Regions from separate parts of the Homo sapiens genome. Here region 2 is linked to region 1. The links come from fine-mapping of genetic effects on gene expression. A gene starts in region 1. The other region holds a variant in brackets. All regions are shown on one strand. Distances are from middle to middle.

Region 1 (5,378 bases):
CAGAAACTCGCTTAGCAAAGTGATAGGATAGGGAATGGATTAGCTTAGAAATCAAACAGGCTCTTGTCCCAGGTCTACTATCTGCTAAGTCACCTGCTTAGAAAGATGAATGAAGCAATGCATCTAAAACCACCTAAAGGGTCTAATGTGCTTGAACAACATAAAGAATTAAAGGTACTTTTAAGCCTGTTTCTCTCCATTCTGTCTATTTTCTAAGTCAATTTTAATTATTTTCAAAAATTTTCCCCTTCTCTGCCTTCTCTATCTGCACAATGGACTCCTTCCATCCTATTCTGCCCCTAAGCAAATGAAGGCGTGCTACTGTCTCTTCCCACTCAAAAAATCAGAGATTTTATAGAAGTGTTCAAGAATGAAGCAAGCTGGAGATGAAGAAAAACTTATACCTGCATTAAAAAATTAAAGATATTCTTGATTTTATTCATACAAAACCCAAGATTTACAGATTATCATTTTATATCATTCTAAGGAAATACATGATACAGGTAGAAAAAAAGCTTTATTTGGTGGAGAAATTCTGTGCAGTTTTAAATATAGAGCACAGAGCTTAGCTGACTAGTGTTTTTATCTCCAGATCACAGGAGACAATTGTTAAATTACTAGATTGTAACTTGGGTATTTCTTCAAAAGGTTTCCTCAAATGATAGCTATAGAACTTTAAGAAAAAAACTGCACACACTTTCCGACTCTGTGGTGCTTTCAGTACCACCCAAAACAGTGATTAGGTTTTAATGCGCATAATAACTACGTTGATCAGAATTTAATTTTTAAAAATCATTAATAAAAGAAATCACTAATACCTCAGAGGGTGAGCAGGAACATTAAATCAACTGTCACTTGAATTTTCCCAGGCAGTAGGTATAGTAAGTCCTTTTTTGAGATTTTACTTTAATTGGAAAGTATTACTGTTTTCCTAACTACTACATTTCCTGCACCTCTGGAACAAAGTCTCTGGCCAGGACTGGAGTGAGGCCAGAAGCCCTAGGGCGCAAAATTGAAGGAGATACTCTCTATACTTGCATGACCTGAAACAGTGACTGCCTCAATTTGGGGCCATTGGCGCCACTTTGTTGGCCTCAACCTACTTTCTGCCCAGGTTTATTTTCTTCAAAGTGTTCTCGTCTTTTGCAATATTTTGAAGTAAGGACAAATTTCAAATATAAATTTGGCCATTCGATTTATGCAAATGGATGTTATTTGCACGGTCACCCACAACTTTACCCAAGAATCAGTAGCGTGACGACTATAAAGCAAAAAACTAGACAGTTCTTACTGTGAGATTACGATTTGATCAACAACAGGGAGAAACCCGTTTCTTAATAGCGCTGAGATCCCCAACTCTTACGCAGAATTTTAACGCCCCCAAAGCGCGTCTATTAAAGTGAATAAATAAAAAGTGACCGCCAGGAACAGACCGCGAAGCTGACCCCTGTCCTGATCCTTACGAGCAGCCGCCGCGGGCAGGCTCCCTCCCCGGGGCCGCCTCCCTTCGCCTCCGAGCCAGTCCGCGAAACCCGCAAAGGCGCCCCGGAAAGCCGCGCCCGGCGGCGGGACTCGAACGCAGCCCACCGGGGAGCGGGCGCCCTCCGCTTAGTCCCCACAGGCTCCCGGCGAGGCCCGGCTTTCCGCAAAAGTGGGGAGGAGAAAAGCTAGACTAACCCCACGTCCTGTCCTGAGAGAGACGCCGGGACGACAGCCATCACTTTCCGCGATCCCGGCCGCAAAGCTCGGCTGTTCAATCGCCGCAGAAACAGAGGCGGTACCGCCGCGAAGGAGGAGCTGAGAATGGGGGTGGTGTGGCTTTAAAAAAAAAGTGCTTTTGAATAAAGAAACTTTATTTGGTGCCCGATCAAACGGCAAACAGTGGCTCGCCAGAAGACCCAATCTTCCGGGGACGAAGGCGGGGCCAGCGGAGGGCGACTAGAGGAGCGGATATGGAAGCGAGCGAAAGCCGGAAGCAGGCAAGGGACCGGGAGGTCCCAGGGCCTAGGGAGCGGAAGAGGTCGCGGCGACGCGGCTCACGTGGTCAGACAGTCACGTGGCCCGAGTTTCTCCCGCTAAGTGGGACCAGAGTTCAGTGCGGCTGCGCAGTAGCGGGGGTGGGCGGGAGCGCCCTTCCAGGAGATGGGTTGGCTGCAGTAGTGAGAGGCTGGGGGTGCGGCTCTTTCCCTGCAGTCCTGCCGAGGAAGCGTGCGTCCCTGGCGCTTCCTTCTTCTCTTCCGGCGGAGAGGTTAGTGTATTGCCTTTTCTTTAGCAGCTCGAGTGGTCCGGCTTGGAGGTCTGCGCCCTGGCTCCTGGCCGCCCGGAACGTGTACAGTTACGGGTTACGCCAGTGCGGCTGTGACCCTTTGCCTCTTACCGTGATCTTTGGTCAGCTTAGCTGGGAGTAAAAAGCACTCAATTAATGAACCCTTTTTTTGAGCCAGTGCACCGCGGTAACTGTAGAAATCGATAAAATAATTTTGAGTTTGAGGAATTGAACGGCATACTCCCAAAGATGAGCGCCACTTAGCTCTCGAATCGTAGCCTAGCTGTAATCGATTTTCTTAATTGGTGTAATTGTTCTCTAAAAGTTGAAATGTGCCCGGGAACTGAGTAACTGCCTTGTATTTCATTTTAAAAATTCGATCGAATGCCTACTATGTGCTGGGCGCTATTGTCAGGAGATATAATAGGAAAAAACACAAATCCGTATCCTCAGGGAGCTTCCATTCTGGAAGGAAGACACAAAAATCTGCCCTTTCCTCTTATTTTTTTCCTTTAGCTTTGTGTCTCACGTATTTTACTGATTTACCTCGTTTTGTCTGTCACTCCCAATGCAAGGTTCAAAAGATTCAAAAGATAGGATTTTTGTCTATTTTATTTTCAGCTGTATTGTCAGCAACTAGGACAATACCTGGCACATGATAAGAACTGAGTTCGTTTGCAGTATGAATTAATAAACTAAAAATTAAAGGTGTGCAAGTGATGTTAAACAATGGAGAAATGCAAAGTGGAGGAAGATAAGAGAATGGATGCTGGTTGTGTTTTTTTTTTTTTTTTTTTTTATTGATCATTCTTGGGTGTTTCTCGCAGAGGGGGATTTGGCAGGGTCATAGGACAATAGTGGAGGGAAGGTCAGCAGATAAACAAGTGCACAAAGGTCTCTGGTTTTCCTAGGCAGAGGACCCTGCGGCCTTCCGCAGTGTTTGTGTCCCTGGGTACTTGAGATTAGGGAGTGGTGATGACTCTTAACCAGCACGCTGCCTTCAAGCATCTGTTTAACAAAGCACATCTTGCACCGCCCTTAATCCATTCAACTCTGAGTGGACACAGCACATGTTTCAGAGAGCACAGGGTTGGGGGTAAGGTCACCGATTAGCAGGATCCCAAGGCAGAAGAATTTTTCTTAGTATGGAACAAAATGAAAAGTCTCCCATGTCTACTTCTTTCTACACAGACACGGCAACCATCCGATTTCTCAATCTTTTCCCCCCCTTTCCCCCCTTTCTATTACACAAAACCGCCATTGTCATCCCGTCCCGTTCTCAATGAGCTGTTGAGTACACCTCCCAGACGGGGTGGTGGCCGGGCAGAGGGGCTCCTCACATCCCAGTAGGGGCGGCCGGGCAGAGGCGCCCCTCACCTCCCGGACGGGGCGGCTGGCCGGGCGGGGGGCTGACCCCCCCACCTCCCTCCCGGACGGGGCGGCTGGCCGGGCGGGGGGCTGACCCCCCACCTCCCTCCCGGACGGGGCGGCTGGCCGGGCGGGGGGCTGACACCCCACCTTCCTCCCGGACGGGGGCTGGCCCCCCCACCTCCCTCCCAGACGGGGTGGCTGGCCGGGCGGGGGGCTGACCCCCACCTCCCTCCCGGATGGGGTGGCTGGCCTGGCGGGGGCTGACCCCCACCTCCCTCCCGGATGGGGTGGCTGCCGGGCGGAGGGTCTCCTCACTTCTCAGATGGGGCGGCCGGGCAGAGGCGCTCCTCACATCCCAGACGGGGCGGCGGGGCAGAGGTGCTCCCCACATCTCAGACGATGGGCGGCCGGGCAGAGACTCCCCTCACTTCCTAGATGGGATGGCGGCCGGGAAGAGGTGCTCCTCACTTCCTAGATGGGATGGCGGCCGGGCAGAGACGCTCCTCACTTTCCAGACTGGGCAGCCAGGCAGAGGGGCTCCTCACGTCCCAGACGATGGGGGGCCAGGCAGAGGCTGCAATCTCGGCACTTTGGGAGGCCAAGGCAGGCGGCTGGGAGGTGGAGGTTGTAGCGAGCCTCGATCACGCCACTGCACTCCAGCCTGTGCACCATTGAGCACTGAGTGAACCAGACTCCGTCTGCAAACCCGGCACCTCGGGAGGCCGAGGCTGGCAGATCACTCGCGGTTAGGAGCTGCAGACCAGCCCGGCCAACACAGCGAAACCCCGTCTCCACCAAAAAAGTACGAAAACCAGTCAGGCGTGGCGGCATGCGCCTGTAATCGCAGGCACTCGGCAGGCTGAGGCAGGAGAATCAGGCAGGGAGGTTGCAGTGAGCCGAGATGGCAGCAGTACAGTCCAGCTTCGGCTCGGCATCAGAGGGAGACCGTGGGGAGAGGGGGACCGTGGGGAGAGGGAGAGGAGGGAGAGGGAGAGGGCTGGTTGTGTGTTTTTAATGTAGTGGTTGGGGAAGGCTTCACTGGGTAGAAGACATTTTAGCAAACATCTGAAGGAGGTGAGGGTGTGAGCCTTTCAGATCCCTGGGAGAAGAGCGTAAGGAACAGCAAGTGCACAGATCCAGAGACCAGAATGAGGAGCAAAATAAGCAAAGGAGAGTGCTGTCAAAGTGGTGATAAAGGACAGATAATGTAGTGCCATGCAGGCCATTCTGAGGGGTTTAGCTTTTTTTTTTTTTTTTCGTTACAGAATCTCACTCTGTCGCCCAGACTTTAGTGCAGTGGCGCGATCTCGGCTCACTGCAACCTCCACCTCCCGGGTTCAGGCGATTCTCCTGCCTTGGCCTCCCGAGTAACTGGGATTACAGGCACCCGCCGCCACGCTCAGCTAATTTTTTTGTATTTTTAGTAGAGACGAGGTTTCACCATGTTGGCCAGGCTGGCCTCGAACATCTGACCTTGTGAATCACCCGCCTCGGCCTCCCAAAATGCTGGGGTTACAGGCGTGAGCCACCGCGCCAGGCTTTTTTTTTTTTTTTTTTTTTTTTTTTGAGACAGAGTCTCGCTTTGTTGCTCATTCTGGAGTGCAGTGGCGCAATCTCCGCCTCCCAGATTCAAGCCATTCTCGTGCCTCAGCCTCCCAAGTAACTGGGATTATAGGCCCATGCCACCATGCCCGGCTGATTTTTGTATTTTTAGTAGACACGGGGTTTCGCCGTGTTGGCC
Region 2 (5,378 bases), 28 kb after region 1:
TTTCTAAGTAAGTGCCTTCCATGTATTATTTCATTTAATCCTGGGGAAAACCCTATAATTGCAGCTAACTGGCTTTCCGATGAGATTTATTGAATCCTGTCTTGCCAAAGGGCACCTGACTGTGAGTCAGCCTGAGCCCAGTGGTGGCTGCAGTCAGAGGTAAGGATATAAACCTGAGAGAGACAGCAAATGAGCAGCCTGTAGTTTTATTATCTTTAGTAGTTACTCAGCCCTTGGCCTGCAGATACAGCTCCTGTGAATCCCCTTTCTGTGTTCTATTAGGTTTACATTAAAATGGCAAAAACCGCGATTACTTTTGCACCAACCAAATACTTCCATATCCAACTACTGCTAGACCCTTGTGTGTGTGTGTGTGTACGCTTATCCACACACACACACACACGTTACTGTACAGTCTGTGAGGAGTAAAATCCTCAGTGCTTAGGATCCCAGAGTCAGTTATTTTGTTTCGTCAGAAAGACTGTCCTGGCTGCCACCTACATGGTTATTATGTGAGTTCTGCCATGATTCCAGGGATCTGCTCAGCTCTGTGGCATGGGCCCAGTTTACTCATAAAGCATCTTGTGACCAAGCACAGTGGCTCATGCCTGTAATCCCAACACTTTGAGAGGCCAAGGCGGGCAGATCACTTGAGGTCAGGAGTTCAAGACCAGCCTGGCCAACATGGTGAAGCCCTGTCTGTACTACAAATATAAAAATTAGCTGGATGTGGTGGTGCACTCCTGTAATCCCAGCTACTCAGGAGGCTGAGGCAGGAGAATCGCTGGAACCCAGGAGGCGGAGGTTGCAGTGAGCGAAGATCACGCCACTACACTCCAGTCTGGGTGACAGAGCAAGACTCCGTCTCAAAAAAAAAGACCTCTTGTGACTGCTGTCTTTGCTTTCCTTCCTCCATCTGAGGCTGTCATAGCAGATGCCGCCCTCCATCAGGCCCCTTGTCCCCCTCCCTTTGGCCGTCACTTCTTGTCTGACATCTTTTGTGAAGGTTTACCCTGTCTTTTTTCCATTTGCTTGTGATGTTTATATTCACACATTCCGCTCTTCCCCTGTCCCCTGTCTAGGATTCTCCACAGTCACATACTCATTTTTCACAACTTCCTTGCCTCCCTCCCCAACCCCATCATGTCAGTGTGATTTTAGATTACACTCCATATATAGTTTTATATGCAGCATTTTTTCACATAGAAATTTACTGTGAACGTTCTCCTTTTTATTAACTATCCTTCCAAAACACACTTTTAAGTTTTTCTTGTGTGGAGTGACTATTACTGAGCCAACCCCTACTGAACATTTGGTTTATTTCCTAATTTTTTACTCTTAAACACTGACCTTTTTTTTTTTTTTGGAGACAGAGTCTTGCTCAGTCTCCCAGGCTGGAGTGCAGTGGCGTGATTTCGGCTTACTGCAAGCTCCGCCTCCCGGGTTCACTCCATTCTCCTGCCTCAGCCTCCCGAGTAGCTGGGACTACAGGCGCCCGCCACCACACCCGGCTAATTTTATTTTGTGTTTTGAGTAGAGACGGGGTTTCACCATGTTAGCCAGGATGGTCTCAATCTCCTGACCTCGTGATCCACCTGCCTCGGCCTCCCGGAGTGCTGGGGTTACAGGCGTGAGCCACCGTGCCCAGCCAACACTGACCATTTTTTTAAAAGTTTTCAGCTGGGCAAGGTGGCTCGCACCTGTAGTCGCACCACTTTGGGAGGCCGAGGTGGGTGGATCATTTGAGGTCAGGAATTCAAGACCAGCCTGGCCAACATGGTGAAACTCTATCTCTATTAAAAATACAAAAAAAATTAGCTGGGTGTGGTTACGCATGCCTGTAATCCCAGCTACTAGGGAGGCTGAGGCAGGAGAATCGCTTGAACCTAGGAGACTGAGGTTGCAGTGAGCTGAGATCGCACCACTGCACTCTAGCCTGGGCGGCAGAGTGAGACTGTCTCAAAAAAAAAAAAAAAAGTTTTCTTGTATACAAATTTTTCTTTGCATCTTAGATTATTTCCTTAGGATAAACTCCTAGAAAGGGAATTACCTGGACCAAAGGATATGAGAACATTTGTAACACTCTTGATACAAATTGTCAAAATGACCTCCAGAAAGATGATATGGTGTCTTTTTCAAAGGAAAAGTTAAAGTGCTTTTTAAGATTTAGAAGGTATTATCTTTTTGCTTTTCACAGGGGACAGTCAAAACTTCACAGGGGGGAAATCAAGTTAAATTCAGAGCTGGATTTAGATGATGCCATTCTAGAGAAGTTTGCTTTCTCCAATGCTCTATGCCTTTCTGGTAAGTTACTACTGCTTATGGGATAGGGTACTACAGTTGTCATTTCACTGAGGGAAGTTTAAATAGTCACGATTTTGGTATATTTTCAGAATACTCAACAAAGCCTTAGCATTCCTTTTCCTTTTTTTCCCTCCATCAGAAAAAATATCTAGTATAAAAGATAGTACTGTGCTGAAGTTACTCATTCCTTATTAATTGTATTAATAAAGCTTAACCTCTCCAAAAGTATTTTTTAGATGATGATTATATTAGCCTTTGTTTTTTTCTCTTCTCTCTATGCGATTGTTATTCTTAGATAGTCTCTAATCCAGACAGAGAAGCCCAGCCTTGTGTGACTGGGCACAGGTCCCAGTGTAGAAAAACATACTCTAGTGTTCCATAGGAATGGGACCCAGAGTCACAGTGGCTATAAGTTTGTTCTGAAAGATCCACATCCCGAATAAAACTATACAAGTTCTTTAAGAATTTCTTTTGCCAGCAGTCTACCTTAGGTGGCTGCTGCAGCGTCCTGTCCATCCCACTCTGAGGGGCTTCGGAGATTTCTGAGGTTTACTCTTAGTCCTGAGGAGTGAAGGGGAGGCCAGGAAAGTCTTAGTC[G/A]CGCCCTATCTGCAGAGCTACCCATGGTATCAAGGTGTACCCTACCCTCCTCAGTTTCCAAGATGTAATACTAGAAAATCAAGAGTTCTACTAAATGTAGCTTTGGTCTTCCAATAGGGCATGGAAAGCGATTCAGTTTCCTCTATCCACTTTAATTCTGTCCTTTATGATAATTAACTATTCTTAAATTATATTTTCAAGGTTTTAGTACTTTTTCTTAAACTATTACTGAAATAGTAGTGAAGATGCTGTGCAATTATGTATTTTATATACATGTGAATATGATGATAAAGAAATGTTCCATTATTAATTTTTTTCCCAGTAAAACTGGCAATTTGGGAAGCATCACTGGATAAATTTATTGAATCTATTCAGTCAATTCCTGAGGTAATTATATCAATTTTATGCTTATTCAAGGATTGATTTTTATATGTAAAAAATATGAATTTCCCAATATAACAATATATAGCTATCCATCAGTATCCATGGGAGATTTGTTCCAAGACCCCACTGGATACCAGAATCTACCAGTGTCCAAATCCCTGATATAAAATGGTATATATTTGCATATAACCTATGCATATCCTCATGTATACTTTCAACCATCTCTAGATTACCTAAAATACCTAATATAATGTAAATACTATGTAAATAGTTGTTATACTGTATTATTTAGGAAATAATAACAAGAAAAAACAGTTTGTACATGTTCGGTACAGATGCAACCATTCTTTTTTCTCAAAATACTGTCAATTTGCAGTTGGTTGAATCTGCAGTTGCAGAACTTATAGAGGGCCGATTGTTTAGGAGTACAACAACATTATTACAAACAATAAGAAAACTACAGTAAACTTAAGAACTCCCAGTTACATATAAAATGACAAATTAAGAAACTTCATATTGATTACTTTTTACTTTTTAAAACTTCAAATTGTTTCCTCTGTTGGTGCAGTATTTTTTTTTTAATATTAATATAATTGAAATGGGGTCTGGCCATGTTGCCCAGGCTGGTCTTGAACTCCTGGGCTCAAGCGATCCTCCTGCCTCGGCCTCCCAAAGTTCTAGCATTACAGGCCACGAGCCACCATGCCCGTCAGTTGCAGTATTTTTAATGTAACTGAATTAAAGAAAAAAGTGAAATGTTTCTCTCTGAGAATGGAAATTATGACCACTTTTCCTGATTTAAGAAAGTGTTTTGCTAAATTATGAGAAAAATAGTGGTATGAAAAATACATATAAAGTTATATTGAAATTTCAGTATACATTAAAAATCATCATATTGTAATTAACTGTGTCTTTATTGTGAAAGAGTAATCTAATTATACTTCGGAAAGGAGGCCCTGCTTTTCTACTAAGAGATTAGGAATGTATATATCATTGAAAATGCTGATGAGAAGGGAAATGAAAAAAGAGAATATACAATTTCTACCTAATAAAATTATGAAATTTCAAGGTGAGTTAAGACATTAATCTGGGAGACAGCCATCCTAAAAAATATTTACATAGGATCCAAATTATGCCACTTCAGATTTTGCCCTGTTGACCTAATGCTTATTAGAAAGAGAGATACATGGTTTTTTGGTTTTTCCGATTCCCTCTCAACTAGGCTTTAAAAGCTGGGAAGAAAGTGAAACTATCTCATGAAGAAGTTATGCAGAAAATCGGTGAACTCTTTGCTCTAAGGTAAAAGTTTTCTCTCTAAATAAAATATTTCATATATTTAACAATCTCAAGAAAACATTCCCATAGTTCTGTGGTGAAGAGCAAACATTTACACGTTTATGGGAACTGTAGCTGTTTTCATTTCATTGATTATAAGCAGGGAGAACTCTTACCCATTAGAAGTAGTTGGGCTGTGTTAAGACTGTACTGAAAGAAATCACGCATGTGCAAAAGAGATCACGATTCATCTACATTAAACCCACATTAAGGAGCACAGTAGGTGTTCTTTGAAGGTAGAAAGACATATTCCTGAATTTGGTTAATGGGAATTCTCTGTAAAAATATATCACTGCATCATAATGCTAAATAGGCTTAATTGCTACAGAAAAGTTTCTTTGAATCTGAGACACCAAGATGCCACTGGAGAGAAAAACTGCTGCCAGTTAAACTATGACAATACTTTTTTTATCAGAGGATTAAAATTTTACACTTACTGAAATATCTTTTAATCTTAGCTGGATATAAATTATATCACATTCCCTCTTGGGCATATATGAAAAGGAAAGCATAAGAAAATAAATTATTTAAGGCAAAGACAAGTAAGTCTCAAGTGCCACCTGTCAGACACCATTAATTTTAAGATGCCTCGAGATGTTAAAATGGGAATAACTATGTCTAAAAACTGATGAATCATTTTAAATAAGTATCTGGAAAGGTTTTCAGCTTTTATTATTCTTGTAGTTGTCCCAGGATTTACGGAATGAAACATCCCGGATGTTGGTGTTTTTCTCACAGGCAGCATTGTCCAGTTTATC

Evidence for each region. PIP is the estimated chance that this variant, and not a neighbour inherited with it, causes the effect.
Region 2: its variant is the best candidate, but not a certain one, in a credible set for the expression of RMND1 in stomach (GTEx, PIP 0.57).

Annotation. Positions count from the first base shown.
Region 1 is chr6:151,448,886-151,454,263 of GRCh38, reverse strand. RMND1 (required for meiotic nuclear division 1 homolog) reads left to right here and starts at 2,138. Exons shown (of 12, transcript NM_017909.4): 1 at 2,138-2,248. DCPH1 (damage control phosphatase 1) reads right to left here and starts at 1,798. Exons shown (of 5, transcript NM_024573.3): 1 at 1,678-1,798. The coding sequence starts at 1,718. RefSeq lists a silencer at 1,441-1,560 and enhancers at 1,721-2,170, 2,361-2,410.
Region 2 is chr6:151,420,451-151,425,828 of GRCh38, reverse strand. It overlaps RMND1 (required for meiotic nuclear division 1 homolog), which reads left to right. Exons shown (of 12, transcript NM_017909.4): 7 at 2,198-2,304; 8 at 3,224-3,288; 9 at 4,508-4,584. Among named protein-coding and RNA genes, the nearest start is that of RMND1, 29 kb to the left of the region's middle. The variant G/A (reference allele first, on the strand shown) is at 2,902.